Linked DNA regions of Homo sapiens. The protein of the gene in region 1 purifies or fractionates together with the protein of each later gene. This does not show direct contact. Each region holds a gene or a part of one and is shown on either strand. Other genes may lie near its edges.

Region 1 (3,839 bases):
TTACTCACACTTATCAGAGCCCATAGACCTTGTATAGCTGCTGCCCATTCAAAACCAATTTTCTCATACAGAAATCCACCCAGCGTTGGTCCCATAAAAGCACTAACAATAGAAAGAAGAAAAAGTATTCAATAGTGCAAAAAATAAATAATTACTTCATGAAAAGCTACATGATCCTTCAATTGTAAGTCTTCATTACATTGGAAGATAAGTACTAAAGATAAAGCTAATTCCTGGGCACAGCATTCAGTAAAAGAAAATAATTCTACCTGATAATGACATTCAAAATTTTTTAACAATTTTGAAATTATTACTGCTTCTGAAAAGTTGATGGCTTATATAAAAATAAAAAATATGAAACAGATTTAAAAAATTCTTTATATTATTCTATTCTCAGTATTTGCAACTAATATAACTCAATTCAAAACAATATATTACATTGTTAGCATAGTTACCCTTCTGGTAGAAGGTAAAAAATAAACAAATGAATGAATAAATGAATAAATTGTAAAAATCAGAGACATGTTTCTATTAAAGGAACTTATAAATACCACTCAAATAAGATAAAGTATATGAAACCATTTTGACTAAGTATTAAACTGTTGGTATAGGCATTGATTGTTGAGTGAAAGGGTATGGATTAGAACTCTGGCTTTCCCCTAGATGAACTGTTTGTCTTTGAGAAACTCATCTGATCCCTCAGTGTTTCAATTTCTTCATCAACATCAAGCAGGGATAGTATTAATATTTTCCATCTTGCAAGTATGAATGAAATTAAATGAGGCTGGGCACAGTGGCTCATGCCTGTAATCCCAGCACTTTGGGAGGCCAAGGCGGGCAGATCACCTGAGGTCAGGAGTTCAAGACCAGCCTGGCCAACACGGTGAAACCCTGTCTCTACTAAAAATACAAAAATTAGCCAGATGTGGTGGTGGGCACCTGTAATCTCAGCTACTCAGGAGGCTGAGATAGAAGAATCTCTTGGACCTGGGAGGCGGAGGTTGCAGTGAGCCAAGATCGCACCATTGCACTCCAGCCTGGGTGATGAGAGTGAAACTCCATCTCAAAAAAAAAAAAAAAGAAAGAAATTAAATGACTACTCACCCAATTGACCACATTGCACTAAAAAGACCTGATACAAGTCCCAATGTACTTAATCCCTCTTCAAACCCATTTTCACTGCAAAAAGAGACATGAGTGTATCCATTATTAAAAGGAAAACCTGTGTGAAAGAAAAAATTGTATGATAGATCAATTAAGATAAACCAAGGATAATCTGGAAAAAAACCAACAGCAAGAATACTCTGCTTCTAAGATAAAAAGCAAATCTTATTTAAAAGAATTTTCATAGTTACATTTACTCCATGGTTTTCTAGAAATAATTTTTCTGCATATATATATGATATTAAGAAGCATGGCTCATTTGCATTAAATACTTATAAAAATATATAATTAAGAAATTCTTAAAATGAGATGAAGATGGAAAGAGAACAAAGGCAACTTTTAAAAAACAGAGATAGTTCCTTATTCCCATGAGAACTATTGAACTGACCCAGCACAGCCATAGTACTTAGTGTTCTTCATCATCATGCCTATTAAACAAAAGAATGATGACCAGGTGACAGATGCTGGTCACTCTAGGCTCTCTCATGGACCTCCTCCATGAAAGAGGAACAATGCTGAGACCTATCTATTTTGCTTTAGCTTTTCAAAATTACTTACATACTGAGGCATAAACCAAGCCAGACATCTGTCCACAACCCATTTTAGCTATTAATGTACTATTATCATTTCTATTAGTGTATTATTACTATTTATATCATAATATCATATGCTACAAAATCATGAAGATTTAACATTGGGGCAAAAATATCCAACATGCTGCAAAATTGAGAAATTCAAGAAAGCCTGTGATACTTACTACTTATTCACAATACAGCTCTTCAAGCAATGGAAGTAACTTACTGTGCACAACTGAGAATTTCCGGGAAAGTTGGAATTATACTCATTCCAGCAGAGAGGCCACTTACAACTAATATCAGCACCAGCAGCCAGAGCTGACTGCAAAAGGGTTTTGGAGAAAACAAATACAAAAAGAAAAACATTAGCGTTTTAACAAACACAAAGCTTAATGCTAAGGAAGTGAGGATCCCTGATAAGTTATTTCACCGATTATGTGCCTAGTCTCATTCCCTTTCCCATCTAACCCATTTCATTCAGTTAGAGTGTCCTTTAGCTCCTTACAGTTTTGGGGGCGGGGGGGTGGGGGGGAATTCATCCTGATATCTCCATCTCTTTGGTCCTTTGGTTACACATATCACATATCTGGAGCCAACCTGGCTTCTTCTCACCAGACAAAATCCCTTCAAAATTGGTGAAAACGTCAGTACTAAAACTGTTCTTTCAATCACTCGGCTTTGAACTTCAATTAATTTAAAGATGGCATAGAAGGAAAGAGGTAAAAGAAGAGTCAGGAAACACATTTGTTCCATGTGAGGAGACTATGCCAGTTACTTAATATATGTTACCAGATTTAATCCTTGTAATGTAAGTACTATTATCAGCTCCTTTTTGTAGATGAGAAAACCGAGGCTCTTGGAAGTTAAGTGGTTTGCTTATTAGTACATGGCAAAGCCAAAATGTAAACTCAGGTCTGAAGGACTCTGAAACCCCTTCCTTTCCAGGTTACTATGTTTTATCCCAGAAGTACCTGAAAAGGTCTAAGAAGTTCAGTTTATTTTAGCAACTAAATTACATTAAGCAAGGTCTAATAAGCAGCTACTACATGCTAAGGATGATACAGAAAGAAAAATAGATTTGGTCCCTGCCTCAAGGAAAAAGAAAAGAAAAAAAAAACAAAAATATATTCTAAGAACTATCAACTAAAGGTAAGTAGCAACAAATTCTATTTTAAAAATATAACAAAAGTATAAACAAGTATGTACAATTGAAATACAGAAGGAGAATATGCATTTTTGTCATTTGAGACAGATTTTATGCATTTTTTTCTGTTGTCCCACTGCTAGCTTCTAGTAGGGTAAAATATTGTCAGCCTAACAATTCAATAGAGTCCTAAAGTTAATTATTTAAATATTAATGTTCAAAATACTAAACTATACCAATGTTAAAACAAAATTTTTCGAAATAATTCCTAATGTTATTTGGCCAAACATACAGAAGAAGAAAAAAATTACCTTTTAATATGCAAGATTGGGACAGGCCCTAAGAGCATGTAGCACCCGGCTGTGATTAAGTTGCCAAACACCAGAAGCCATTTCCTTAGAGGCTGGTAAAGGAGAAAGAGAGTCAAAATGATTCTTAGAGGCAAAGACCCTCCATAATCAAACAACGTAAAACATTAGTAAAAAACACAAATCATGATATTCAAAAACCCAAATACAATGAAGAAAACAAAACTTTACATTTAAAAGAAAGTAAGGAGATGATAAACTCGCAAGCAATGACGATATATAACAAGGCAGAAAGTGAACAAAGGACAAAGATTTCTTAGCAGGGGAGTGCATTGCAGATCAGATTTTGCACATGATGAACTATTACAAATATAACAACGAAAAAACTCATTATAAAAAGCAGTAACCGGCCAGGCACGGCGGCTCACACCTATAATCCCAAAACTTTGAGAGGCCGAGGTGGGAAGATCCCTTGAGCTCACAAGTTTGAGACCAGACTAGCCAACATGGTGAAACCCTGTCTCTATTAAAAAAATACAAAAATTAGCTGGGCAGGGTGGTGGACATCTGTAATCCCAGCTACTCAGGAAGCTGAGGCAGGAGAATTGCTTGAACCTGGGAGGCGGAGGTTGCAGTGAGCCAAGATCA
Region 2 (4,455 bases), on another chromosome or scaffold:
TTAGTGATTTTACAACGGTAACCATTTTTGTAGATTAGAATTTTATTCTTCACTTTTTAATTTTTTTTTTTGAAGATTGTGAATTGGAAATCCCCCAGCTTGCTGGCTCCCTCAGTGGGACATTCCAGCACATTATTACTTAGTGATGTTCCATTCACCTTGAAAACCACTACTTGCCAGGACCTGGCCCATAAGGGTTAGGTAAGTCCCACCTTGATATTATTTTGAATAACTATATTTTGCAGGCTTGCAAAGTTGTAATATTACTATGTCTAAATATTGGTGATAGGAAACAACTTTGCAAAGCTGTATAATGTTTTTTTTTTTTTTTAATAATAAAAGGGACTTCACTCACCATTGAAGACTGGCCTAACTCTGCTGGATGGGAAATCTGGGAATTGATATAAGAGGATAGTAACAGAAAAGTTACTTGCTCAAATATCACTAAAAAGGCAAACTATGGAATGGATCCCTCATCCTCAATTTTAAGTTTTAGATTTATAGGCTGCATTAGCTATGTGTAGGTAGATGTCCAATCTATTTTCTTTGCAGGCTGTCCTTGTTTTATCATTTGATTTTTTCATCTCTGTTGAATAAAGCATCCTACGTTACAGATTTCTGAAGTTAATATTTTTAGGCTGTAGGTATTAATAGTTGAAAACCTTAAAAAGATTATTCTAGCTTGACTATAAATTATGTTGACATATTAAAGCAGATATTAAAAAATTTAGTATAAGCATCTTGTTTCAGTATACTGATAAATTTGTTTTAATTTCTATAGCCTAACTTACGTGGTGGCAATGCCTTTTTATTCAGCAAGTCTGATTGAAACAGTGCAGGTGAGCTTTTTTTTACTGTCATTTTTTTTTTATTTAAGAATAGTTTTTTGACTATTCAGTATATTGTAGATATCTAACATTTCAGCAGAAAATTTTAAGACTATGTCTTAAAATATTTATTTTATAAATATCACAGTTATATCGCACGTTGCTTGTCTGTATATTTCCATTGGTATCTTAAGTCACACTTCTAGTTTTAATTATTTTTGTCCTTTCCATAGGCAACTATACTCTTCATTTAGACATCTCAGAACACAGCCTATAACTTGCTCTGAAAACAAAGAATCTATAAACTTTTTAAGGCCCTTACATACAACTCAGATGGTTATGGCTTATCATTGGACAGTAAATTAATAATTACCTGAGAATAAACATGATGGATAATCATCCGAACAGGAAGCAGGTTGTCCCCACAGGTAGTTTACTGACAGGATTCTTTTAAAACATGCCTTTAAGTGACATTTGATACTATTGGGTGTGGTAAATACTACAAAGCTGAAGCAATTTTCTGCTAGCACTTGAAATTCTGTTTGCTTGTGTTACTATTCCTAACCACATGGTGGCGCTTCAAGTACATTTAATTAAATGTCTTACCCTCCTTCCTACACTTAAAACTGTAAGATGAAGGTAGTTTTTACTTCACCTGTATACAAAATCCAACTATTTGTACACCTGTCTTCTATTTCCACATCAGATCCTCTAGCATATTCTTTTCTCTAGTATATGTGAGTGCCCTCTCTGTAAAAACTCGCACTGGATCAGCCTTTGCTCTTCTAATTACTCTTTTCTACCTTGTTTCTTTTCTGGCTGTATCATTCATCTTTGATTTATGATTATTATTATTATTATTTCTGTTAGAACTAACTTCAGTTAACTGAAGTTAGTGTCTTGCGACCCAAATCATACTTTCCCTTCCCCTTGCATTTGGCATTGTGTTAAATAAATGATGAATTTTTGTATGGTGCTATAGAATTTACAGAGTTGTCACTTGTATGAGATAGCCTCATTTTAAAGGTAAGGGAAAAATGTCAGGAAGGTAATTATTTAAGGAAAAACAACTAAGCAGAATGATTTATTGGGGAAAACAATTTTTAGCTTGAGACAGACCCATTATCACATTTCTCTGCTTAAATTAGACCTGGGACTTTAGACAGATTTCTTAACCTTTATAATTTTCTTATCCATAAATTGTGAATAGTATTTTAATAACTGACGTGTAACATTGAATGAGTTATTTATATAAGTGCCCGGCTCACTATGTGATAGGGTTTTTTCTGTGTATGTGTTTTTTTTAACCCAGTATTTACTCCTTGTTTCCTGCTTCAAGTTCCACTTGCTAACTCCTTTTGATCTCTTTTGTCTGCTTTTCTAGAACTCTTTTTTCTTTAGATTTCTCTCTCTTGAACATCTTTTTTCAATAATGCCTTTGCCATCTCTTGTCTTATACCTTAAGGCCCAATCCTTGACCCTCTGTTTTTTATCCTATACTCATTATTCTGAAAGAGCTAATTTATTCACAGGAATCATTAGCTCTAATCTCATGTGAGTTAAATCTTCAGACTCAACTTTTAAAAACAATCTCATCTGTCCCTCTAAAAATTAGCTTCCTTTAGAACCTCTTCTCCTTGGCAATATATTAGTGATACTATTGTTATCTTCACACTAAAGATTCAAAACTTTAGTTTTTGTTTTAGGAAAGTTTTTTATTTTTACATTTCTTTCATCCTTCATAATTACCCAGTCATCATGAACTTTGTAGTTATCTATTTCTTCATTAAGAATCCTTGAGGCCTAGGTGGGCGGATCATGAGGTCAGGAGTTCGAGACCAGCCTGGCCAACAGTGAAATCCCATCTCTACTAAAAATACAAAAATTAGCCGGGTGTGGTAGTGGGCGCCTGTTGTCCCAGCTATTCAGGAGGCTGAGATGGAAGAATCGCTTGAACCCGGGAGGCAGAGGTTGCAGTGAGCTGAGATCACGCCACTGTACTCCAGCCTCGGTGACAGAGTAAGACTCTGTCTTAAAAAAAATAAAAAAGAAAGAAAGAAAGAAATCCTTGTACTAGTCTCCACATTTTAAAAGTCAATACTCATACAAGATTGTTTTCAAGTTGCAATACTTATATATATCCTTTTACTGATTAAGGATTCATATTGACTCATATTCCCTAAAATCAACTTCAGACTTCTTATTATAGTTTTAAACCAAGGTTTTAATTACATCACTTTACCTTTCAGATTTGCAGATTATCTTAACTGCTAAACTTTTAAAAAAAATGTATCAATTGTTTATTGAGTACTTGCCTATATCAGGTACTGTTATAGACCCTGGGGATACAACAGCAAACAAAACCAAAATGCTCTGTTCTCATAGCACTTATATTCTTATGGGGAAAGTAGACATAAACAACTAAATAAAAGGTATATTTCATGGCGATTAACTGCTAAAGAAAGCAAAAATAAAGCAAGGAAGGCAAATAGGATGTGTAATGGGTAGGGAGGGGCGGTTAATATTTTTTTAAGAAGATAAGTAAAGGTCTCACTGAGAAGGTGACATTTGTGTAAAGATCAACATGCATATTTGGGAGAATATTCTAAGTAGAGGGAAGGCAAGTGCAAATGCCCTTACATGGGACTGTGTCATGTGTGTTGTATCATACATGCTTGAGAAGTAGGAAGGATGCCGATGTGGCTGGTGCTAACTAAGCACAAAATAAGCAAATGTTGAATTGTATTTAGAGGGAAAGCAGGTGCAAAAACTCTCAAGTGGGACTGTGTCATGTGTGTTGTATCACACATGCTTAAGAAGTAGAAAGGAAGCTGTTATGGTTGGTGCTAAGTAAGCAAGGGGGGAATACAGGAGATGAGGCCTGAGTGGTAAGAGGGGACCAGATTACATAGGACATTGTAAATCATTGTAATAATTGGGCTTTTGTTTGAGAAGGATGGAAAGTCTTTGATAGGTTTGAGCAGAGCGGTGGTGTGATCTGACTTACATCTTTATTAGGATCTCTTTGACTGTTGCATTAAAAATAAACTGGAGTGGGAAGGATGTCAGGGTCAGAAGTAGGAAGATGGATTAGAAGGCTAGGCAAGCTCACTGTCATCTCATAGTTTTAAATATCATCTATTTACTAAAGACTCCCACATTTATAATACAGTGCTCCTCCACTCACGATGGGATTACATCCCAATAAACCTGTCATAAATTCGAAAAATCTTAGGTTGAGACATCGTAAGTTGGAAACCATCTGTAGGTCCATTGTGTACCTTTTTCTGTAATTTCTATTGTGAACTCCATTTGGAGTTAATTTACTTAACATTTCTGAACTCTTGATCTTCACCAAATTGCTACTCTGGCAATTTTTCATCTCAATAAAAGGCAGTGCTATTCCCCCAGTTCCTCTGGACAGCAACCTTGGGGTTATCCTTGACCCTTCTCTTGCATACCCCAAATGCAATTCACCAGTAATTCCCATAGACTTTGATTTTAGGATAAAAGCACAATTGAACCACTTTACTTCTGTTGCCACCTTCTAGTCCAAGCCACCATCATCTCTTTGTTACTGGAATCATTCCAGTAACTTTTGAACTGGTTTCTCAACTGATCTTGTTCT
Region 3 (4,455 bases), on another chromosome or scaffold:
TGTGTGTGTGTGTGTGTGTATACAAGTTTCTGGGGTACTTGAGAAAATTTGTTACACATATATAATGCATAGTAATCGAGTCAGGGTATTTAGGGTGTCTGTCACCCGAATACAATACATTTTTGTTAAGTGTCATCCTCCTACTCTGCCATCAAACACTGAGTGTATTCCTTTTCTCTTACTGTATGTTTGTGGACTTTAAGCCACTCCTCTTCATCCTCCCCCTACCCCCTGCTTTCCAGGGTAGGAAACCCCCTTTCCAGGCTCTGTTATCCATTTTTCCACTCTCTACCTCCATGTGTTCAAATTCTTTAGCTCTCACATATAAATGAGAACATAGTGCCGCGTTGCTTAACAAGTGGTCTGTCTTAGACCCAAATATAGCTACTGGAATGTAGCTTTTTTGAATTGAACTTTGTTATTAGATATTTTTACTAGTGAAGCAGATCCCACAGAGTGGACCCCAGCCCTGTGGCTTCAAACATAGTAGAGTATGAATGTTTTTTCCTTTGTCAGCACCTGCAAAACTCATGTCACTACCCACATGCACTGCCATTGTAATCATGGTCTCACCCTCAGTTTTTCCAATGCTAAAGTCATCAGAAGGGCCAGCACATTCCAATAAAGTCCCCTGAAATGCTGGTATTTTTGAAAACTTCCTGTAGGCGGGATTTTACTAAAGCCCTTGTTGGGAAAGAGACTACATTAGCCATTTGTGTAGACTGCACAAGGGAACCACATGATACTCTGTGAGCAGTTGTATGTATTCCCAGAGTATTCTAAGCCAACCCTAATTCTCAGGTACAGAGCCAGGCAGGGCTTGGTACATAGACAGACCCTAGAGATGAGCTGCCAGATGTTTAGGAAAATAAATCTGTGGGCTTCTCAAACAGATGGTGCAATATACTCTCTGCATTTGGCCATTTGACAAAATGAGCATCATTCATTATTTTAACTAATGTTATAAATCCCTTTCCATGGATCCATTTCCACGTTTAACTTTTTAGAGTATTGCAGAAATGTAAGCCTTCATTAGCTTTGTTCACCTAAGAGAAGAGAAATAAAACATCGAAGGCTTCTCTTTGGTGACTCTAAATTAAAATTCCCTCCCGCATGTTTTTTCTTGGGCAACGGTAATGTGCTAGCACTCTGCTAGACCAACGAATAAATTTACAGGATGGCTGAGCAATAACTGAAAGTCAAGTATCAATAGAAGGGAGGTTTTGTGCAGGTCATTCTCTGTCTACTCTCCAGATCCACTCTCCGCGGGCTCCCCTGCTCTGAGCTCTAGGAAGAGTGAGCAGCTCCCTTTCCCCCAGCTATTGATTCAGTTTAGCCAGTGGGAGACAACAGTGAGATCAAAAGGTGGGATGGAGAAATCGCTAGAGCCCAGCGTTCTCTCTGTGGGGCTGCAGGATGGCAGTGGCTGTGTTCCTGTACTGCAGGTGGCCCCTCTTGTAGGCAGCCCTCCCCTGCAGGTGCAGCCTCACCAGGTTCTGGCCACTCCCTCTTCCTTTGTCCCACAGGCCTAGTGGAGGCCATGGCTTCTCAGAGTCATTAGCCCAGGGATGCGTTGCCCTCACTTGTGGATTTCCATTGGCCCCGTCTGCACCTTTGTAAACAGTCCTGTGTGAGGTTATCTGCAGTCATCCCTCTTGAGTGTGTCATCTGTTTCCAGCAGGTGCGTTGTATTGACAAGATGGAATGGTGAACTGCCATTGGTCCAGCAGACCTTGCAATCCCAGGGGAATCTTGAACATCATTCTCTCTCTGACCCTGGCCCCTCCCTGTGCAGCCAGGCATTTCAATTCTCTCTTCTAAGTATTCTTGAATCTCTTCTCTTTCTTTTATTTCCACTGCTCTGCCTGAGCAGGAGCACACTCCAGGCCTGCATGTGTGATGGAGGTCGGATTGCCCTCTGCCTCTGGTGGCATCTTGCCCCATTCCAGCTCATTCTTTACCTGAATGTCAAGCGATCTTTCTAAAAACCAACTCCAATCAGGCGTACACCCAGTTCACAAGTTTCCAGTAGCTTCAAATTTCCAGTAGGACACAGTTTAAGCTGTTTGTCGTGATCTAACCAACCCCATCTGGCCTGGTCTCACCTGCCTTCCGGCATCATCTCTCTCCATCCTCCTCTTTGCCCTCTTCTTTCATGTGGGCCTTGACCAAGGTATTCTGCCTGCCAGAAATACTCTTCCATTTCCTCATTCAATTAACTCTTACTCTTCAAAAGTCAGCTTAGTGTTGGCATTTTTCTATAATAAACAACCATCAGTTGTGCAATTTAGAATAATAATAAAAGGTTAAGAAATAAAAAGACTTCCTCCCATCTCAGATAATATCTGATACAGTCAGCCTTTGTGGAAACTCCCCCCTTCGTAGTGAAGGGTACAGCGCTACCCGAACTCCATGCCATCTCTATCATAGCTGTCACCACATGGTATAAATTGTCAGCTCACGTGTGTCTTCCTCCCACTTAGGGAGCAAATTCTTTGAGTGCAGAAACTGTTTTGCTGCCCACCTCTGCAACACTAGCACCCAGCTCAGCCTGGGTTTATATTAGATTATCATGTCAATACTAGAAATGAGATAGAAGCTGAGTTTAACCCTAAATAAGTTACAGGACTTGTATAAAATTGGAGAGGGAGGGAAACATCAGGAAGCTAGGCAAGGAGAGAGTGGGTAGATGTCATTTCAGAAACTATGTTGGCTGAGTATTCCTTTTCATTGATTTTTTTTTTTTTTTTCTTGAGATGGGGTTTTGCTCTTGTTGCCCAGGCTAGAGTGCAATGGTGCAATCTTGACCCACTGCAACCTCTACCTCCTGGGTTCAAGCGATTCTGCCTCAGCCTCCCGAGTAGCTGGGATTACAGGTGCCTGCCACTACACCCGGCTAATATTTTGATTTTTAGTAGAGATGGGGTTTCACCATGTTGGCCAGGCTGGTCTTGAATTCCTGACCTCAGGTGATCCACCCGCCTTGGCCTCCCAAAGTGCTGGGATTACAGGCATGAGCCACCGCACCTGGCCTTCACTGATGTTTTAATTTTTATTTTGCTTACTGTGATAGCAGTTATCTATCACTTCCTCTGTCCAGCTGCCCCCCTGCAATAATGAAATTATGTTTTGAGTCTTTCCAGGCTGTCTGGATCCTATGAAAAGGCTTTTCTAGATCAGCCTTAGGACTGGCAGTCCTGTTTTGCATGCATTCATCTTCAGCCCAGGTGGGAAGGATGGGAAACTTCCTCTTTTTTTTTTTTTTTTTTGAGATGGAGTCTGGCTCTGTCGCCCAGGCTGGAGTGCAGTGGCACAATCTCGGCTCACTGCAACCTCTGCCTCCCAGGTTCAAGCAATTCTTCTGCCTCAGCCTCCTGAATAGCTGGGATTACAGGCGTGCTCCACCATGCCTGGCATTTTTTTGCATTTTTAGTAGAGATGGGGTTTCATCATGTTGGCCAGGCTGGTCTTGAACTCCTGACTTCAGGTAATCCACCTGTCTCGGCCCCCCAAAGTGCTGGGATTACAGGCATGAGCCACCACACCTGGCCAACTTCCTCTTCTTCACAGCTGCTAACTAGTGCCAGTGTTGGAAGCAGGCATTTGAGGGGACCGGCCATAAAGGACCAGCTCACTACTGTTTGGATTTCTGCAGCTAAGTTTAGGGTTTTAAAGAAGGAAAACATCCAAGTGTACCCAGATGGTAGGCTCAGTAGGTTAATTTGAAATTGTCTTTTATACAGCTCACTGCAAATGTGCTGTTAATACTACCACAGGGAATTTGGATGTTTAAACTGTGAATTTTTTGAGTTGGGAAGCCTGGAGGGATCTGAAGATTTCCTGAGTCAGCTTTGTCACTTGGTGAGCTGTTCTGTGCTCTGGCTTTCCTCTGGCCCATAGGAGGGGACAGTGCCTGCCGCCAGGCCCTGTGATAGCGGATCTTCATGGTCAGCTTGTGCAAGGGTTGTTTTTTATTTAATTTTCTTTGACAGGGGAGATGACAAAAGAAATTGGGCAAAAATGGTCTTTAAAAAAAAGTCATCAGCCGGGTGCAGTGGCTCATGCCTGTAGTCCCAGCATTTTGAGAGGCCAAGACATGCAGATCACTTGAGGTCAGGAGTTCGAGACCAGCCTGGCTAACACGGTGAAACCCCGTAAAAGTACAAAAATTAGCCAGGCGTGGTGGCGTGCACCTGTAGTCCCAGCTATTCGGGAGGCTGAGACAGGAGAATCACTTGAACCTGGGAGGCAGAGGTTGCAGTGAGCTGAGATCGTGTCATTGCACTCCAGCCTGGGTGACAGTGAGACTTCATCTCAAAAAAAAAAAAAAAATCAAGTTTGAGAAATAACATTTTAAAAAATATTGACTTGGCTAATTCATTGACTTGTCTCCTTGTTCTCCTCTCAGAATACCTCTGAAAACTTGCAAACCCTGTAACCCACAATGAACGCAGT
Region 4 (4,455 bases), on another chromosome or scaffold:
CCTATTCTGAATTTGTTTCCCCTGGGATACAGTGTGACCTTTCAGTGTGTAGACCCCAATCCTCTTATAGTTCAGAAACACCTTAGATTCTATCTTTATGAACATATCTTTACATATTTTTCCCATTCATGTTAAAGTTTTCTTTTATGCAAATATTACATCTCCTTTGCTGTCTTTTGTAACTGTTTCTTCTCTATTTCTTTTAGCCCTTTTTGGTTTCATTTTTTTTTTCCATTTCTCTCCTTTTGTTCCTAGTGTGTTTTTAGCAGTTTCTTCTCCCTTTGCTTCTTCCAGTTTCACCTTCATTTCTGTAACAGTATTTTTCCTTTCACTTCTTTCCTCAGTTCTGCCAGTATGCAGCTTGTCTTCTCTTCTCGTCTCCCTACCTCTGCTAAAGTTCTTGTATTTCTGCTTTGAGCTCTCATTTCATAGAGACAACTATTTTATCAAGTTTTCTTTTTTTCTTTGTGTAAAATATTTTATTACCATTGTATCTAGTCCATGGAGGCCCTTTTCCAGTCTGTGGTCTTAGTCTGCCATTTGGTTTTCCTATTTCTTTCCTAATTTTTTCTCGTTGTATATTTATATAGATCCTGTTTAGATTTTTTGTATACTTATCTTTAAATAGGCAAGTTTTTCAGGGACCAGCTGTTTTGCAGGATGTTTGTTGGAGGAGCTACCAAAACTCTGTTCTGGGCTAGCTACAGTTGTTCCCTTGATTTAGGGTTCTGGGTGAGTCCGTTTACCCTTAGTCTCTAGCCAGCCAATCGAGATAGGCAAGGCGTCTCTTAGCATCTCCACAATGCAAAGGATGTCTTCTCTACTACCACAGACACCACCTCTGTGAGGCAAATGTAGCTTGCGTGATTTCTCATTTAGCCTCAACTTCAGGTCCAAGGAAGTTCCTGCCTTCCAAAAACAAGGAATTAATTTGGTGCTGGAGTGTGTCCTTTACCCACAGGAAGTACATATTTTTGCAGATCTTTCTGAGATCACCAGCTTCCCTGTCCTCTCCCTGTAGCATCCTTTCTTCTTTTTCTTCTGTGAAGCAAAGGAGTCCCTGCCTGAGCTCCCTGCTTTTGACAGCTTTTTCACCTGTTTGGGGGTTTGGAATTTTGGATATCCTGTAGTTATAACAAAAATGGAGTTTGCATTTTTATTTCTTCTTTTTGCATTTGGAACATATTTTGAACAGCATTTGAAAATGCTGACTTTATGATGCAGTGTTAAATAAGAAGTTTTAACTGACTTTTTCTGTTAACCAGCCACTAGTCTCCACGACATCATGTGTTAGGCCTTTTACTATACCTTCTCCAGAAAGCCCCCACCACCACACTGTTGTCTATCTTCGAAGTCCCTAAAGCCCAAGGAATATGCTACTTAGATATATGGAAAGCCTTTCATTCATTTAGCATGCCTACTCTGAGCGTTGTTCTAGGCCTTGGAGATAAAGCATGGAAGAATTAATACAAGATATTGACACACCAAAGACAAGTCTTAAATGATTTCATGTGGACTAGGGGTCAGGGATGAATAGAGTGGAAGACATAGTTTGGGATTCTGAGGAAGTATGATATAAAGGGTAGAACATGAGCTCCGGAATCAGCACCATTCTGCTGCTAATATACATGACATTGGGATCATTTTATTGCCTTTTCCTCATATATAAAATGTATCAATTTCTTCATATATAAAGTGAAGTCAGGCCAGGCGTGGTGGCTCACGCCTGTAATCTCAGCACTTTGGGAGGCCAAGGCAGGGGGATCATCTGAGGTCAGGAGTTCCAGACCAGCCTGGCCAACATGAGGAAACCCCGACTCTACTAAAAATATAAAAATTAGCTGGGCATGGTGGCGGGTGCCTGTAATCCCAGCTACTCAGGAGGCTGAGTTGGGAGAATCGCTTGAACCCAGGAGGCGGAGGTTGCAGTGAGCCAAGTTCACACCACTGTACTCCAGCCTGGGTGACAGAGTGAGACTCAGCCTCAAATAATAATAGTAATAATAATAATAAAGTGAAGATTATATTACCTACCTTAGATGAATGTTGTAAAATTAAGGTAAGTTACATAAAGTACTTGGTTCATAATAGATACTCAACAAGTACTACTTTCTACCCACACAGGGATTGGCTAAATAAAAGGAATAAATACTGAAAGTGCAGGTATAGAGGACTATTTCTCTCCTTTTTTGTTAAATTGTGGTAAAATATGTAACATATAGTTTCCTGTCTTCACCATTTTTAAGCTTACAGTTCTGTGGCATTAAGTATATCCACATTGTTGTGCAGTCGCCACCACCATCCGTCTCCAGAGCTCTTCATCTTGCAAAACAGCACCTCTGTACACATTAAACAATAGCCACCACTGTCCTCTTCCCCCTGCCTCATGGCAGCCCCCGTTCCAGTTTCTGTCTCTGAATTTGACTACTCTGGGTACCTCACAGGAGTGGAATCACACAGTCCTCATCCTTTTGTGTGTGGGTTGTTTCACTTATAGTATCTTCAAGGTTCATCCGTGTTACATTGTGTCTCAGAATTCCCTTCCCTTTTACAGCATCTCAATTCAGATGAAAAAAAAAAAAAGAATTCTTTTCCTTTTTAAGGCTGAATAATATTCTGTTGTATTTCTATGGCACATTTTGTTGATCCAGTCGTCTGTTCATGGACACTTGGGCTGCTTCCACCTTTTGGCTGTTGTGAATAATACTGCTATGAACATGGGTGTACACATTCTCTTCAAGTCTTTACTTTCAGTTCTTTTGAGTGTATATCCAAAAGTGGAATTGCTGGGCCATATGGTAATTCTGTTTTTAATCTTTTTGAGGAACCACCATACTGTTTTCAGAGGCCTATTTCTTGATGGGGAAGTATAAACAGTGGAATTCCCCCAGGGAATAATTTTAAAACCAGTCTTGTTTAACATTTTGTAAATTATCTAAATATGAGACTTTTACCATTAAATCTTCATTTGCATATAGCTAATGAATAATTCATATTGTATAAAATGTAAGAACACCTCGTGAGAGTGTGTGTGTGCGTGTGTGTAGACAGAACAGTGGTTAATAAAGCTCAATGTGGGCACACACGCAAGGGAATACATTTGATTTATTATACTCTGTCCTCAAGATCAGAAGTTCCCTGCACTTACTGAGGGCAAAATACAGGGAGCCAATGCCAGAGAACTTCAGATGTCAGAAGTGCACAGTGCCCAGATATGCAGACACATCTTTCTTCTTGACTCTGCATTGCTGACAGAGTAAACTGGTGGTTGACTCTAGACTCTGGACCAGTGGTTCTCAGCTGGGGTGAATTTGCCCCCTGGAACACATATGACAATTCTGGAGACATTTTTGATTGTCAAGCTGGAGGAGTAGAGACCAGGGATGCTAGAGAACAGGCCACAGTGACAGGACAGCCCCACAGCAGAGGATTATCTGGTCCCAGATGTCACTAGTACCTAGGCTGAGAAGCCCTGCTCCAGACCCAAATTACCTTCTCAGCCTTGTCTTAGCCTCTCTCCTGCATAAAGAAAGTTGCCATCCCAGCCAGACCCAGGAGCTCCCCATACCTGCCCATACACCAGCTGAATTGCTCCTTCCAACATCTTCTACCTGAAATTCTTTCCCCTACCTCTCTAATGTCAGAGCCCAGCTTCCATCCTCCCACTGTCTCTGTGAAGCTCTCTGATCTCTCTAGCCACTGTACCCTTTCTTCTCTGACTTCCCCAGGACTATCCCAGTCATTTGGCACTTAGTTAACAATAGAAGGTTGTACTTGCTGTCTTCCCAACTTGACCGAAAGCACCTTGAGGGCCATTTGATGTGATTTGGTTTGAAATATGGAGTACCATTCCTTATGAACCACAGTGGGCATCTCTGCTTTGACCCACCCAGGGCTTTCTGTGACAGCTTTCCTACCACAAAGGGGTACAGTAGTTGAGTCACCTCCGTCCCATCACAGCAGTTAGGTACACTGAGATTCAGCTTTGTTTAGATGACTGCTAGCTAGATGGAACCTAAGCCCAAATGTGACCCTTATGCTTAGAAAGGTGTTTATGCTGAATCTGCTTTCTAATCTAAGCAGTAAGAAATGAGGTGAGGAGAGGTGCAAAGGAATTGGGCTCTATCTTGCTCTGATCACGTCCCTTCAGTGGAGCACAGGCTGGAGGATCTGCCTTATAGAAGGTGGAAGACATTCATTTCAGTTGCTTGGACAGGGATTATTCTGTCATAGCTGGACCTACTTAATGACAGTCAGTGTTGATGATGGTAATATTAATAATGAAAGCCACCATTCCTTACTTAGAACCCAGTGTGTCCTGGGCACCAGGCTAGGTGCTTTACACACATTTATCTCATCCAGTCCTCACTGCAATCCTGGAAGGAGGCTGAAGCACTTTAAAGGTCATTTGCCCAGGGCCACCCAGCTAGCAAGTAGCAGAGCCAGAATTTAAAC
Region 5 (4,455 bases), on another chromosome or scaffold:
CTGGGGCATGGCCTCCTGGAGGGAACCAGCGTGGAGATGCCGGTGTGCCTGGGGCGTGGCCTCCTAGAGGGAGTCAGTGTGGAGATGCCCGTGTGCCTGGGGCGTGGCCTCCTGGAGGGAACCAGTGTGGAGATGCCCGTGTGCCTGGGGCGTGGCCTCCTAGAGGGAGTCAGTGTGGAGATGCCCGTGTGCCTGGGGCGTGGCCTCCTGGAGGGAACCAGTGTGGAGATGCCCGTGTGCCTGGGGCGTGGCCTCCCGGAGGGAGTCAGTGTGGAGATGCCCGTGTGCCTGGGGCGTGGCCTACTAGAGGGAGTCAGTGTGGAGATGCCCGTGTGCCTGGGGCGTGGCCTCCTGGAGGGAACCAGTGCGGAGATGTCGGTGTGCCTGGGGCGTGGCCTCCCGGAGGGAGTCAGTGTGGAGATGTCGGTGTGCCTGGGGCGTGGCCTCCTGGAGGGAGCCAGTGCGGAGATGCCCGTGTGCCTGGGGCGGGGCCTCCTGGAGGGAACCAGCGTGGAGATGCCCATGTGCCTGGGGCGTGGCCTCCTAGAGGGAGTCAGTGTGGAGATGCCCGTGTGCCTGGGGCGTGGCCTCCTGGAGGGAACCAGTGTGGAGATGCCAGTGTGCCTGGGGCGTGGCCTCCTAGAGGGAGTCAGTGTGGAGATGCCCGTGTGCCTGGGGCGTGGCCTCCTGGAGGGAACCAGTGTGGAGATGTCGGTGTGCCTGGGGCGTGGCCTCCTAGAGGGAGTCAGTGTGGAGATGCCCGTGTGCCTGGGGCGTGGCCTCCTGGAGGGAACCAGTGTGGAGATGTCGGTGTGCCTGGGGCGTGGCCTCCTAGAGGGAGTCAGTGTGGAGATGCCCGTGTGCCTGGGGCGTGGCCTCCTGGAGGGAACCAGTGTGGAGATGTCGGTGTGCCTGGGGCGTGGCCTCCTAGAGGGAGTCAGTGTGGAGATGCCCATGTGCCTGGGGCGTGGCCTCCTGGAGGCAGCCAGTGTGGAGATGCCAGTGTGCCTGGGGCGTGGCCTCCTAGAGGGAGTCAGTGTGGAGATGCCCGTGTGCCTGGGGCATGGCCTCCTGGAGGGAACCAGTGTGGAGATGCCAGTGTGCCTGGGGCGTGGCCTCCTGAGGGAGTCAGTGTGGAGATGCCCGTGTGCCTGGGGCGTGGCCTCCTGGAGGGAACCAGTGTGGAGATGTCGGTGTGTCTGGGGTGTGGCCTCCTAGAGGGAACCAGTGTGGAGATGTCGGTGTGCCTGGGGCGTGGCCTCCTGGAGGGAGTCAGTGCGGAGATGCCCGTGTGCCTGGGGCGTGGCCTCCCGGAGGGAGTCAGTGTGGAGATGCCCGTGTGCCTGGGGCGTGGCCTCCTGGAGGGAGCCAGTGCGGAGATGCCAGTGTGCCTGGGGCGGGGCCTCCTGGAGGGAACCAGCGTGGAGATGCCGGTGTGCCTGGGGCGCGGCGTCCTGGAGGCTGGGCTTCCTGCCTGGGTGGCGCTTCACCAGAAAGCCTCATGTATCTTGTCTTTTTTTTTTTTTTTTTTTTTTTTTGAGAGGGAGTCTTGCTCTGTTGCCCAGGCTGGAGTGCGGTGGTGCCATCTCGGCTCACTGCAACCTCTGCCTCCCGGGTTCAAGCGATTCTCCTCCCTCAGCCTCCTGAGTAGCTGGGATTACAGGTGCACATCACCACGTCTGGTTAATTTTTATATTTTTAGTAGAGGGGGGCGTTGCACCATGTTGGCCAGGCTGGTCTTGAGCTCCTGACCTCCCAAAGTGCTGGGATTATAGGTGTGAGCCACCGTGCCCGGCCCATCTTGCCTTTCAATACATCATCTTATCTAAAAAAGCTCGGGGACCTCATAGATTTTATTTTAAAAGGAAATGAAGCACAAGCCACCTTTGAATGGACTTTCCTGTTGGTTTTGTACCTTCCTTCCTGAGTATCTTCAAAGTAGGGCACATGTGGCTGGGCACGGTGGCTCAGTCCTGTAATCCCAGCACTTTGGGAACTCGAGGTGGGTGGATCACCTCAGGTCAGGAATTCGAGACCAGCCTGGCCAACATGGCGAAAACCCGTCTCTACTAAAAATATAAAAATTAGTCGGGCGTGGTGGCAGGTGCCTGTAGTCCCCCCTACTCAGGAGGCTGAGGCAGGAGAATTGCTTGAACCCGAGAGGTGGAGGTTGCAGTGAGCTGAGATCATGCTACTGCACTCCAGCCCAGCTGACAGAGTGAGATTCCATCTCAAAAACAAAAAAACAAAGTAGGGCAGATGACTGTCACTCCAGAGGGTCTGAGTGCAGCTCTGCCTGAGGCTGGAGTCAGCCAGATATCCATCCAAACCGGATTTCCAGCCCAGGCCCATATGGGGTTAGCAGATCTACAGTGAGGCTCAGCCAGGCTTTTGGGTTTATGAGTTCACCGGGAGGAGTGGGGTGTCTTCGTCTTTTATCCTCAGGGTCTGATAGGTGCACGCTTGTTGAATGAATCAGAGGACTGCCTGACTCCTGTTAGGAGTTGAAAATGAAGGTCACCGTGTCTCATCTCCCACCCAATTTGGCATGATTTTTTTTTTTTTTTTTTGAGGCAGAGTCCCGCTCTGTCACCCCAGGCTGGAGTGCAGTGGCGTGATCTCTGCTCACTGCAAGCTCCGCCTCCTGGGTTCACGCCATTCTTCTGCCTCAGCCTCCCAAGTAGGTGGGACTGTAGGCGCCCGCCACCACGCCTGGCTAATTTTTGTATTTTTAGTAGAGACGGGGTTTCACCGTGTTAACCAGGATGGTCTTGATCTCCTGACCTCGTGATCCGCCCGCCTCGGCCTCCCAAAGTGCTGGGATTACAGGCGTGAGCCACCGTGCCCAGCTGCAGCATTTTTTTTTCATTCCTAGGAACAGAGTCTGACTCCTAGCTTAAATGGAAGGAATCGATGGTAAAACATTGGAGGTGGAGGTTGCAGTGAGCTGAGATGGCGCCGCTGCACTCTAGCCTGGGTGGCAGAGCAACTGAGACTCTGTCTCAAAAAAAAAAAAAAAGAACTACCATCAGAAAGGCGGAGAGGATGAGAGTCCCTCAGGACAGGTGAAAGGGGCAGGAGAAGGTCAGAGGCCTGACACACCCAACATTGTCACAAAAAACTGTAAGAGAGGCTGTGGGAGCTATGAGTCGGGAACCTGGGTGCAAACCAATCTCATCCTCACAGACACCCTTGAGGGTCTGAATTGCAGCTTGCAGGTTGATGTGAGTATCTGCTGTTGCCGGGAGAGGAGGAGGGGCCTTCAGAGCACATGAGCTTTGGAAAGGCCCGGCTGTGTGCTGCTCTCCGGAGGGTGCTGGAGGAGGTGTGACAGTGGACCCTCAGGTCTCCCCAGAGGCTCCTGTGCCACCATCTCCCCCCGGGCAGCGCAGGGCACTCTCCAGTGCGTTCCGTGATGAGCTCTCCGTCACTGTCCTCCGCCCTCAGCAGGAAAGACTTTGGTATTTAGTACGCATTCAGGGAAGGAGAGTGTGGGTTTGCGTTTGTAATTCAGGTAGAAGGACGAGGGCATTTTATCCACACTTATTTCTCAAGTTCCAGTTTTTTAAACTGGTGGTTAGACCTGATGATGTTTTATTTGTGTTTCCAGCTTCTTGTGACCACTCTACAGAAACAGGGTGGGAAATGAATGTGCCACATGGATCACAGGTGAAAAACAATTGTCAAAGCAGCGTAGGTTACACTTTTTCTGTGCGTCGTGTGGCCATCTAGACTAGAATTTGGACAAGACTGGCCGGTTTTGCACATTTAACTTTTGCCTGTTTAACCCTGGTCTGTAACATTTTATAAAGGAACCGTGAAGCTGCTTTTTTTTTTTTTTTTTTGAGACAGGGTCTCCCAGGCTGGAGTGCAGTGGCACAATAACTGCTCACTGCAGCCTCAGCCTCCCAGGCTCCAGTGACCCTCCCTAGTCAGCCTTCTGAGTAGCTAGGACTAAGGCGCATGCCACCATGCCTGGCTCATTTTTTAAAAAAACTTTGTGGAGATGGGGGTCTCCCTATGTTGCCCAGGCTGGCCTTGAACTCCTGGGCTCAAGCAGTCCTCCTTCCTTGGCCTCTCAAAGCCCTGGAATTACAGGCATGAGCCACTGCGCCCAGCAAGTGAAGCTGTTTTGGAAAGGACTGGTCAACCTGCAGCTTCGCCAAGGGCAGTGAGCAAGGGTCCCTGAGCACATCCCAGGTTGGGACGGCTCCCAGTGGCCGTCAGTGCCTCTCACTTCAGAGTTTGGTGTGGTTACTGCAGCTCCTCTCTGCCATCTTGTGCTCTGTCCAGAAGGGGCTTTTACACCGGGGTGCGGGGGCACTCCTGTGTGTGTCTCAGAACCCGTTGGGGTGCAGTCATAGGCGACGTTGCCTGTCTCTTTCCTGCCCTGAGTAGATGGGATATGAAGGTGGGAATTGGCCACTGAATGTTGAGATGGAAGCGGAAGCAGCA
Region 6 (5,037 bases), on another chromosome or scaffold:
AGGTCAGGAGTTTGAGACCAGCCTGACCAATATGGTGAAACCCGTCTCTACTAAAAATACAAAAATTAGCCGGACGTAGTGGCATGCGCCTGTAGTCCCAGCTACTCAGGAGGCTGAGACAAGAGAATTGCTTGAACCCGGGAGGCGGAGGTTACAGTGAGCCAAGGTTGCGCCACTGCACTCCAGCCTGGGCAACAGAGTGAGACTCAGTCTCAAAAAAAAATTAGCCAGGTGTGGTTGGTGGGCATCTGTAATTCCAGCTACTCAGGAGGCTGAGACAGGAAAATTGCTTGAACTCCAGAGGCAGAGGCTGCAGTTAGCCAAGATCAAACCACTGCACTCCAGCCTGGGTGATAGAGTGACACTCCGTCTCAGAATATACATTTTAAAAATATATATCTAAAATCCTTTTTTGAGGGGTAGGAGGATGGAGGTGGGATGTATGTTGCTATTGCACTGGCCAGCAGAACCTTGAGAAGTGGACTGATTAAAAAAATGTAGGCCTGGCATAGTGGCTAACACCTGTAATCACAGCACTTTGGGAGGCAAAGGTGGGAGGATGGCTTGAGCCCGAGAATTCGAGAACAACTTGGTCAACAAAGCGAAACCCCCGTTTCTACAAAAAAGTTAACGGGGCATGGTGCGTGCACATGTGGTCCCAGCTACATGGGAGGCTGAAGCAGGAAGATCGCTTGTGCCTCGGAGATGAAGGTTGCAGTGAGCTGTGTTTGCGCCACTGTGCTGCATGCAGCCTGGGTGACAGAATGAGACCCTGTCTCAAAAAATAAAATAAAATGGAATGCAGATCGAAATGTTCAATATAGGCTGTCCATAATCTCCTACCTCATACCCTGAACCAAAATATTGCTACTCTTGGTTAAGTTCAGAAAACTGAATGCTGAGTTAAACCATCCGTTCCTAGCCTTGAACATACAAAACCAACATTAACAGTATTTATGTATTTACTATTAATTATAAACAACTGTGAATTACCCAATGGTTGCTATTTGCCAATATATATCTAGATTAATTATTATTATTTTTTGAGATGGAGTCTTGCTCTGTCACCAGGCTGGAGTGCAGTGGCAGAATCTCGGCTCACTGCAACCTCCCACTCCCTGGTTCAAGCGATTCTCCTGCCTCAGCCTCCCGGGTAGCTGGGATTACAGGCGCGCGCCACCACGCCCGGCTAATTTTTGTACTTTTGGTAGAGGCGGGGTTTCACCATATTGGCCAGGATGGTCTTGATCTCCTGACCTCGTGATCCGCCTGCCTCGGCCTCCCAAAGTGCTGAGATTGCAGGCGTGAGCCACCGCGCCCGGCCTAGATTATTCTCACTTAATTATTACTAAGGTCTGTATATAATTTCTATTTTATAAATTAGAACACTAAGGCTCAGAAAAGTGGAGTGAGTTGCCCAAACTCACACAGTGAAGCCGGGATCAAAGCTAATTACAGTACTGTCTAATTTTAAAATCTATACTTCTAAGCATCTGGCTACACTATATCTCTAAAAGTTTTACGTAGTTCAAATGTGAGCAGCGTTCGTCTACGCAGAAAAACTGAATAAGCAGCATTAACCGCGGGCAGAAACAGAACAGAAACCACTACCTTGGCGGCCGCCCGCCCCCGGGCGTCGCCTACGTCATAACACTGCGCGGCCGCCCCTCGCGCACCACGTGCTAGGGGAGCGGGCGGGCAGATGGCTGTGTCTGTAAGCGGGAGGCGTGCCCGGTTCATCCAAGGCGCAAGATGGCGCTGCTTTTTGCACGTTCTTTGCGCTTGTGCCGCTGGGGAGCCAAACGATTGGGAGTTGCCTCCACAGAGGCCCAGAGAGGTAGGATTATCTCTTTTTACTCTTTTACCTCCAGAATGGCTGCCGTCTATTATTCCCAGACCCCACTCCGAGAAGCAACTCCAACCCTCTCGGGTCTTTTCCTTCCCCACCTGCCTTGGTCTTAAGATTCCAAACCTGTGATACCATTTGGTTTCTTTAAATTCCGGGACTTACTCAATCCGAGTTTTTCAGCTCCGTGAGCTATCCGTAGTAAAGCGACCTCGCGACTCTCTTGCCCGCTTGGCATTCTGACTCTTCCCTAGTTGCTCGTGTATCATGGCTGCCTGCCTCATATCTGAATATATCACCAGCCCTAGGGTTCTAGCCCCTGTTATTATCCCGTCTTTTTGCTCTGCCCGCAGGCGTCAGTTTCAAACTGGAAGAAAAAACCGCCCACAGCAGCCTGGCACTCTTCAGAGATGATACGGGTGTCAAATATGGCTTGGTGGGATTGGAGCCCACCAAGGTGGCCTTGAATGTGGAGCGCTTCCGGGAGTGGGCAGTGGTGCTGGCAGACACAGCGGTCACCAGTGGCAGACACTACTGGGAAGTGACAGTGAAGCGCTCCCAGCAGTTCCGGATAGGAGTGGCAGATGTGGACATGTCCCGGGATAGCTGCATTGGTGTTGATGATCGTTCCTGGGTGTTCACCTATGCCCAGCGCAAGTGGTACACCATGTTGGCCAACGAGAAAGCCCCAGTTGAGGGTATTGGGCAGCCAGAGAAGGTGGGGCTGTTGCTGGAGTATGAGGCCCAGAAGCTGAGCCTGGTGGATGTGAGCCAGGTCTCTGTGGTTCACACGCTACAGACAGATTTCCGGGGTCCAGTGGTGCCTGCCTTTGCTCTCTGGGATGGGGAGCTGCTGACCCATTCAGGGCTTGAGGTGCCCGAGGGCCTCTAGTATGTCCATTACTGGAGTCCCTAATCACGCCTTTGGCCAGCCTCCTTTTGAAAGTGTCCGAAGCCTTTTTACTTTGCCTCAAGCAACCTCTAGCTCCCACAATTCAGTGTTGGGTCCTCTGTGCAATATCATGATCATCTTCCTCATCCCCTACCTTGTGAAAGCTAGGCATACAGCCAAACCCTCCTTTTCCCCACCCACCAACTACTGCCAATTTCCTAGGCTACCATGGGTGTATCTTCCTTGACCTGCTTCCTTCAGTCCCTCTGCCTCCCTTTGCCCAGGCCTTTCTCAGACTGTATTCCATCCTGGGGTCTTATCATTCAGCTTTGTTTGAATTTATTAATCACCATGATACCTCTCCCTCCCTTTGTCCACATGTAACTTGTTCTTGGGGCTCTACCAGATGGCTGAAGAGTAAATCCTTTCTACCTCTGGCTGAAGGAGTGGTGCAGTCAATGACTTGGCCCTTTTTCTACAGCACATTTAGAGTTTGGGCTCTGGCTCCCTCAGTAAGTGCTTTATTAACTCAGTGTGTCAAAATGAAAACAGAGCCCTCCTTCCCCAGTAGCTCAGTGCCACAGACCTTCAGCCCCACACAGCTGTAGCTATCCTTACCCTGAGTCCATCTACCTTAAATCTGTACCTCTGACACCCAGCCAGTCTGTCATAATCATTATCCCAGTTATAACCTTGACCAAAGGGGAAGAGAGACACTTGGGGGATATCTAGGGGATGAGTGCTAGAAACTATTTATTTATTTTTGAGACAGAGTCTCACTCTGTCACCCAGGCTGGAGTGCAGTGGCATGATCTTGGCTCACTGCAAACTCTGCCTTTTGGGTTCAAGCGACTCTCGTGCCTCAGCCTCCTGAGTAGCTAGGATTACAGGTGTGTGCCACCATGCCCGTCTCATTTTTATATTTTTAGTAGAGATGGGGTTTTGCCATATTGGCCAGGCTGGTCTCGAACTCCTGGCCTCATGTGATCAGCCCACCTTGGCCTCCCAAAGTGCTGGGATTTCAGGCGTGAGCCACCACACCCGGCCAAAACTGTTTATTCTTGAGAAGTTCCATCTTCATTTCTGCCACAGTTGGAACTTCCCGAGGAAGGAAGGAGGCCTGAGGTTTTGCACAATCTGTTTCAGAGCCTGTTTAGACTCAAACCTATGCTTCCCTTGGCAGCAGAATACACTTAACCTAAAGCAGTATTTGGAGTTGAGAAAAACCTGGTGGGGTAAGTGAATATGTACTGTTTGGTAGGGTAGGTAGAGAAGCTGTGCTTTGACCCTGTGATTCCATCTTTTTCTACCTTCTATGATGGTGATGAAGCTAGATACCCCTAGGGAAGAAAGAAGGACTGGGTTTAGCAAAAATGATTTGGTAATTAAAGTTTATTTGAACACAAAATACTTTCTCTGTCTATAAAATTGGCTGTTAGCAGTAGCAGCAGCATGTCCTGGCCAAGGGGAGTAGATTTCTCCAGACTACTAAAGCCATGTATATAGCCATTCCCACTTCCCATATTCTGTGGATATGTACATGTGCATGGTAGCTAGAGTCCCTCCACCAGAGTATCTCTCTCATGATGGTTTCTTCAGGGAGAGGAAGAGGAGACCTGGGTGAAGAGCTGGGATGGTTTTGAGTGGGGCAAGCCATTAGGCTGTACCTTGAAGCCCAGTCTCTCTGGATAGCTGTACTGCAGGTGTCCTCTGAGGCCCTTCTCTGTACTCTGTCTGCTGAGGGAATGGGGTATTTTGACTCCCATAGAAAGCACTAGCCTAAGTCACCAAATGACTGCTTGGTCCCCACTGAAGCAGTGTAGCTCTCCATAGTATTTTTGGTGGTTATGGATTACATGTGTGGCCAGCTCATGCTTTTTCTTGAGCAGGGGCTGTCCATGACCTGTGCTCATACCATGCTTTCTAAGTTCTCTTTGGACAGGGCCTCAGCTGCTGCCTCAGCCTGAGTTTCAGAGAGTGTGTAGGAGTCCTGGTAATCTTGAAGCAGTTTGACCACCTCCAGATGGTTGAACTGCACAGCATCATCCAGGGGAATGTTGCCCCACCTGAGAGGAATAATGATATGATCAGGCAAAGGAGACGTGGAGAGTGGTGGTTGTATATATTTGCATGGTGGCTGGAGGGTAGGTGGAGAAGCTGTGCCCACCCTCCTCCACTTTTAGCCTATTCCTCACCTGTCCTTGGCAAAAGGATTCACTTTGCAAGCCTCGATCAGGAATTTAACAACTTCGATGTGTCCTAGGAATATGGGCAGAAGGAAAATGAGAAGGCGCAGGTC
Region 7 (4,455 bases), on another chromosome or scaffold:
GTTCAACCACCTCACCTCCCATCTTACAATGTGATAGCGATACATAGATGTACATCTACAAAACTGTGAGGCTCAAAAATTGTAGAGCATTGTACAAGTGCGGAAATAAGCTGATGCCAGTTATTTTCTGTGTAAGAGGAGGCCTGATGGGTGATAGGGGAATCATTGCACATTTAGGCAGGAAGAGACCTCACTGCTGCCAGCCTGTGGTCTCTGAAGGTTAACGCCCTTGAAAAAACAGCTATATGCCCAAAGAAATATGCTTGTCCCAGAGACTGACTACAGATTTTGTCTCCAGAGCTGTCTTCCTTCCCTCCTAACCACTTCCTAACTTCTGCACACATTTGTTTTTAGCAGATAGTGACAAATGGTCTCAGTGGATATGTCTGTCTTATAAATCTACCACTATTTACTACATCCTAAGTTATTTGTCTTTTCAAAATCACCTCCTGCCCACAAGTGCCTCGTGACATAGTTTTAATAAAATAAATAGAAAACAATGTTGTTTTAAGAATTTCATATGACAAAAGAAGTCTTGAAAGTGAGGCTGGAAATATTTTTTCTCCAGTGCAATCTAGAAAGTAAAACTAATTTCATTTTGGAAGTAGATTTCAGTTTTCCTTAAAGGTCAAACTTAATGTAATCGGATCACTTAAAGTCCATAGACTTTGTCAGGTAGACTAGAAGAGGCAACAGCTTGCCATCATGCTTACTTTCCTTTAAAAAGTACAGAAGCTGTGTCTAACGTGAAAAATTCTAAAGCTATTCAGATTTTGTTCAAGGCTGTAGAATCTTCCATCTCTGAGGACAGTGATCCAGACTCTATCTGTGGAATAAAAAGGGGCAAGATGAACTGCCTTTGAGAAAACATTGAAAGTGGGGTAATACTTTTAGACAGGTGTAGACAAAGCTTAAGAAGTAACTATGCTTAACTATGGCGGTATAGGAAATTAGCCCATACTTTAAATGATATTATTTAACTTTGAAGCAATTATAATGAATTATAATGACAATCAACTGAATATAAACATAAATGTCTCTAAAAATAGCATAGCTTTACTATTCACCAAACATTTCATTTATTAACAAAGTAGATTTCGTACTCTTTTTTTACACTTATGATGACTTGACTGCCAAAGAAATATTTAAATGGCAATAATTAGAAGTTTTAAAGCATAAATTAAAACTGTATGTAGCTAAAATTAACATATATTTTTTAAACTGTGCTGGTTGATAAAATAGTCTTTCAAGTTATTTTCATTCTGTTGATTCATGAGTGAATAGTGTTAATTAAGAAATGTTGATACCATTGTAATGCAATCCCAATAGAAATAGTATTTTTTTACTGAACTTGGAGTATTTGCAAATTAAAATTAGAATTCTGTAATATAATCATCCTGGAATTTCTAATGGAAATATATCTCCTGGAATTTCTAAATTCTAGTTTGCACTGAAACTTAAAGTATATTTATATAGAAACACTGATAACTAAAATATACCTACATGTAGTAGCAGGAATATTAACTTGTGGGTGACATTTTTTCTGCCTTTGTGGTATTATGTTCCCACATACCATAGACTTCAAAAGTATGGCATTTTGAAACATTTTCCAGTCTTGTCATTGACAGCACAGTATTCACAAAAACCATATTTATCTCCTGTAATTTTAGCAGCTAATAGAATTGTTCTTGAGGAAGCTGATTATCTTTTCTGTGACATTTTGATTGGTGTTTCCCCATTTTAATTTCAGCTTATATGTGGCATAAAATTGATTTATATGAAAAGGAGTGGCTTGCCATTTTATAACAAAATTTTGATTGTATATGTATGCACATAAAAATAAAGATGAAAATTCTCCATTAACTGATTCGCAGAATGATACAGTTATGATCAAATAGTGGCATATCGTGATCTTTTAAGATCAAGCCACTGACCCAAATCAGTGTTCACTTACAGAATCATAAATGTAGCAATTCAGAAATGTTGCTTTTTATTAGCTATTGGACAATATTTGTGAAGTCCCTAGCACAGTCCTTGGCTCAGAGTGACTTTTTTTCACTCTTCTTTCTTGTTCATAACACAAGTTCTAACTTATTTTATCGAAATGGGAAATTAAAGAGGATTTTCTGGATGATAACTGCTCCCCTGTTCAGTGTCTCAGAGCCAGAAAATGCCTTTGGAAGGCACGCAATTTATTTCTTAGAGTCTTGGCTTGACCATAGCCATCACAGAAGGATGAGACTCCATTCCACTTTGGCCTATGAATATTTTATATTAGTTCTCAACATATTGTTTGTCCAAGCCAACTTAACATGACTCTGATGTTGTACCTTAAGGCTTACTTCGGTTTCATCCGGCTTCTAGTTTGTTTGCTTGTTGCATATTTACCTTGCCTTTCCAAATAAATCATTATCTCTTTGTGTTTAGAAATTATATTAAGTAAATGTTTTTGTCTTAGGGCATTTGATGTTTTTTCGATAGGAGTCAGCTATTTTGTAAATAAAGTCCAATTGGTACACAGCCATACCCATTGTTTACATGTTACCTGTGACTGCCTCTACATGAACACTGAAGAGTTGAGTAACTGGAACAGAGACCAGGTGGCCCATAAAGGTGACAATGCACTGGCTAGCCTGTTATTGACTGAATTTTTAATTTTGATTAATTCAAATTTTAATAGCCTCTGTGGCTACTGGACAGCAGTTTCAGATGGAACACAAAGGTGTTCTTTCCTCCAGGCCAGTTAACTAATGTGATCTGGCTTCTTGTGCTGCCCTAAGATGCAGCACCCTTCCACTGGGTTCTTCAGACAGACCATTGACCTTTGCCCATGGCTGGCCTGGGCAGACCCTGGACTGAAGAAGTTCTTAATGAGTTGCTACTTTAGACAGCACCACAAGCCCAGAAGAGATGGCAAGCGAGGCAGGGGGCAGAGGTTCTCAACCATGGCTGCACAAAAAATCATCTGACGAACTCTACAATTCCAGCGGCACCCCAAATCTATTAAATCAGAATCTCTGGGTGGGTCGGGGAGCTCAGACACCAAACTTTTTTTTAAAAGCTTCCCAGATGATTTCATTGTGCTCTACTGGCTAGGCAACATCACAGGTGAGCTAGGTAGCCTGTGTACTTCAGAATTCCACCAGGTCATCACAGGCAAGCTTATGGGCAGATGGGCAGGGAAATGGACACATGAAGGCCAGTGGACACCTAGCTTAGCTTAACAGGAAAGCTCTGGTGGGGACTGAGCTGTTTTCCCACCTGGTTTCTCTAGCACCAGGGCCCATTTGCTCAGTAGGGCCAAAGTGTAGATTTGTGTGTGACAGAGGTGAGCTTCAAAGAAGGAAAAATGCAGGATCTTCCAACTCACACATCCAGTGCTTTCTACTTATGTATTCAAAAACATTTATAGAGCACATTTTAATACATTTTTGTGTTGCTATAAAGGAATACCCGAGGGTAGTGGGTAATTTATAAAGAAAAGAGGTTTATTTGGCTCCTAGTTTTGCAGGCTGTACGAGAAGCATGGTGCCAACATCTGGTTCTGGTGCAGGCTTCAGGCTGTTTCCACTCATGGTGGAAGGTGTGGGGGAGCCAGTGTGTGCAGAAATCACATGCCGAGAGAGGAGGCAACCAGAGAGAAGGGAGGGAGGGGACAGCCTCTTTTTAACAACCAGCTTTCTTGGGAGCTCATAGAGTGAAAACTTGCTACTGTGAGGTTGCTACCAAGACATTTATGAAGGATCAGCCCCATTACCTAAACCCCTCCCATTAGTCCCCACCGCTAACATTGGGTATCAAATTTCAACATAAGGTTTGGAGGGATCAAATATCCAAACTATACCAGAGTGCCTACTGCATGTTTAAGATATGCCACACTTATTCAGTCTAGTGGGGTGACTGCCATGTAAACAGTTACCATACAGTGGGGTAAGCATGCTAATTGAGAGGCATCCTAGGGTACCATAAGAACATGAGGGGCAGCCGCCCTGGATAGATAAGGGGAGAGACATCAGGTGGTGCTTTCCAGAGATGGTGACACCCAAGCTGAGTCTTATAGGATCAAAAAGAGTAGTCACGTGAAAAGGGGAAAATGAAAAAAAGCAGATACACACTGGGATGAGGCCCTGGCTGACTTTTCTGTCCCTAAGTCTGAACACTATAAGATAGCTCCTTCCTGAGGAAGACTCTCCCTGCTATTTTAGCAAACCTCATGGAATGTCCTTATTTTAACTGACCTTTACCATTTACTCATTCACTCATTCATTCAAATATGATTTATTGAAGCATTGCTATGTGTAGCCATAATCTAGGTATTGGTGATAGAGCACTGAACAAAATGGACATTTCTGTCCTCAGGGAGCTTTACATTATAGTGGGGAGGACAGACCGTAGATAAATAAATAGTATAGTGTATGCTGTATGTGCTATGGAGAAAAAAAATCATGGTAAAGA

The links.
Region 2: the proteins of SLC18B1 (region 1) and SLC25A46 purify together in Homo sapiens (affinity purification with mass spectrometry; one large-scale study listed by BioGRID and IntAct). This does not show direct contact.
Region 3: the proteins of SLC18B1 (region 1) and MSRB2 purify together in Homo sapiens (affinity purification with mass spectrometry; one large-scale study listed by BioGRID and IntAct). This does not show direct contact.
Region 4: the proteins of SLC18B1 (region 1) and AP3S2 purify together in Homo sapiens (affinity purification with mass spectrometry; one large-scale study listed by BioGRID and IntAct). This does not show direct contact.
Region 5: the proteins of SLC18B1 (region 1) and LAMP1 purify together in Homo sapiens (affinity purification with mass spectrometry; one large-scale study listed by BioGRID and IntAct). This does not show direct contact.
Region 6: the proteins of SLC18B1 (region 1) and SPRYD4 purify together in Homo sapiens (affinity purification with mass spectrometry; one large-scale study listed by BioGRID and IntAct). This does not show direct contact.
Region 7: the proteins of SLC18B1 (region 1) and TMEM150C fractionate together in Homo sapiens (co-fractionation; one large-scale study listed by BioGRID). This does not show direct contact.

What each region holds. Positions count from the first base shown.
Region 1 is NC_000006.12:132,771,028-132,774,866, forward strand, and holds part of SLC18B1 (MFS-type transporter SLC18B1), read right to left. Parts: intron 3,287-3,839; coding exon 3,195-3,286; intron 2,062-3,194; coding exon 1,966-2,061; intron 1,223-1,965; coding exon of another isoform or gene 1,210-1,222; exon of another isoform or gene 1,180-1,209; coding exon 1,105-1,179; intron 103-1,104; coding exon 9-102; intron 1-8. UniProt on the Homo sapiens protein: Proton-coupled polyamine antiporter involved in the translocation of polyamines from cytosol into secretory vesicles prior to their release via exocytosis.
Region 2 is NC_000005.10:110,755,921-110,760,375, forward strand, and holds part of SLC25A46 (mitochondrial outer membrane protein SLC25A46), read left to right. Parts: intron 1-75; exon of another isoform or gene 76-201; intron 202-781; coding exon 782-839; intron 840-4,455. UniProt on the Homo sapiens protein: Transmembrane protein of the mitochondrial outer membrane that controls mitochondrial organization.
Region 3 is NC_000010.11:23,105,225-23,109,679, forward strand, and holds part of MSRB2 (methionine-R-sulfoxide reductase B2, mitochondrial precursor), read left to right. Parts: intron 1-4,455. UniProt on the Homo sapiens protein: Methionine-sulfoxide reductase that specifically reduces methionine (R)-sulfoxide back to methionine.
Region 4 is NC_000015.10:89,837,977-89,842,431, reverse strand, and holds part of AP3S2 (AP-3 complex subunit sigma-2), read left to right. Parts: intron 1-3,087; exon of another isoform or gene 3,088-4,455. UniProt on the Homo sapiens protein: Part of the AP-3 complex, an adaptor-related complex which is not clathrin-associated. The complex is associated with the Golgi region as well as more peripheral structures.
Region 5 is NC_000013.11:113,313,870-113,318,324, forward strand, and holds part of LAMP1 (lysosome-associated membrane glycoprotein 1 precursor), read left to right. Parts: intron 1-4,455. UniProt on the Homo sapiens protein: Lysosomal membrane glycoprotein which plays an important role in lysosome biogenesis, lysosomal pH regulation, autophagy and cholesterol homeostasis.
Region 6 is NC_000012.12:56,466,840-56,471,876, forward strand, and holds the start of SPRYD4 (SPRY domain-containing protein 4), read left to right. Parts: upstream 1-1,738; 5' UTR 1,739-1,752; coding exon 1,753-1,837; intron 1,838-2,199; coding exon 2,200-2,738; 3' UTR 2,739-4,647; coding exon of another isoform or gene 4,648-4,804; 3' UTR 4,805-4,933; coding exon of another isoform or gene 4,934-4,997; 3' UTR 4,998-5,037. Other genes in the region: GLS2 (glutaminase liver isoform, mitochondrial isoform 1 precursor), read right to left, coding at 4,648-4,804, 4,934-4,997.
Region 7 is NC_000004.12:82,551,243-82,555,697, reverse strand, and holds part of TMEM150C (transmembrane protein 150C), read left to right. Parts: intron 1-4,455. UniProt on the Homo sapiens protein: Nonselective cationic channel with high permeability to Ca(2+). Component of a mechanosensitive cation channel, confers mechanically activated (MA) currents with slow inactivation kinetics. May contribute to proprioception.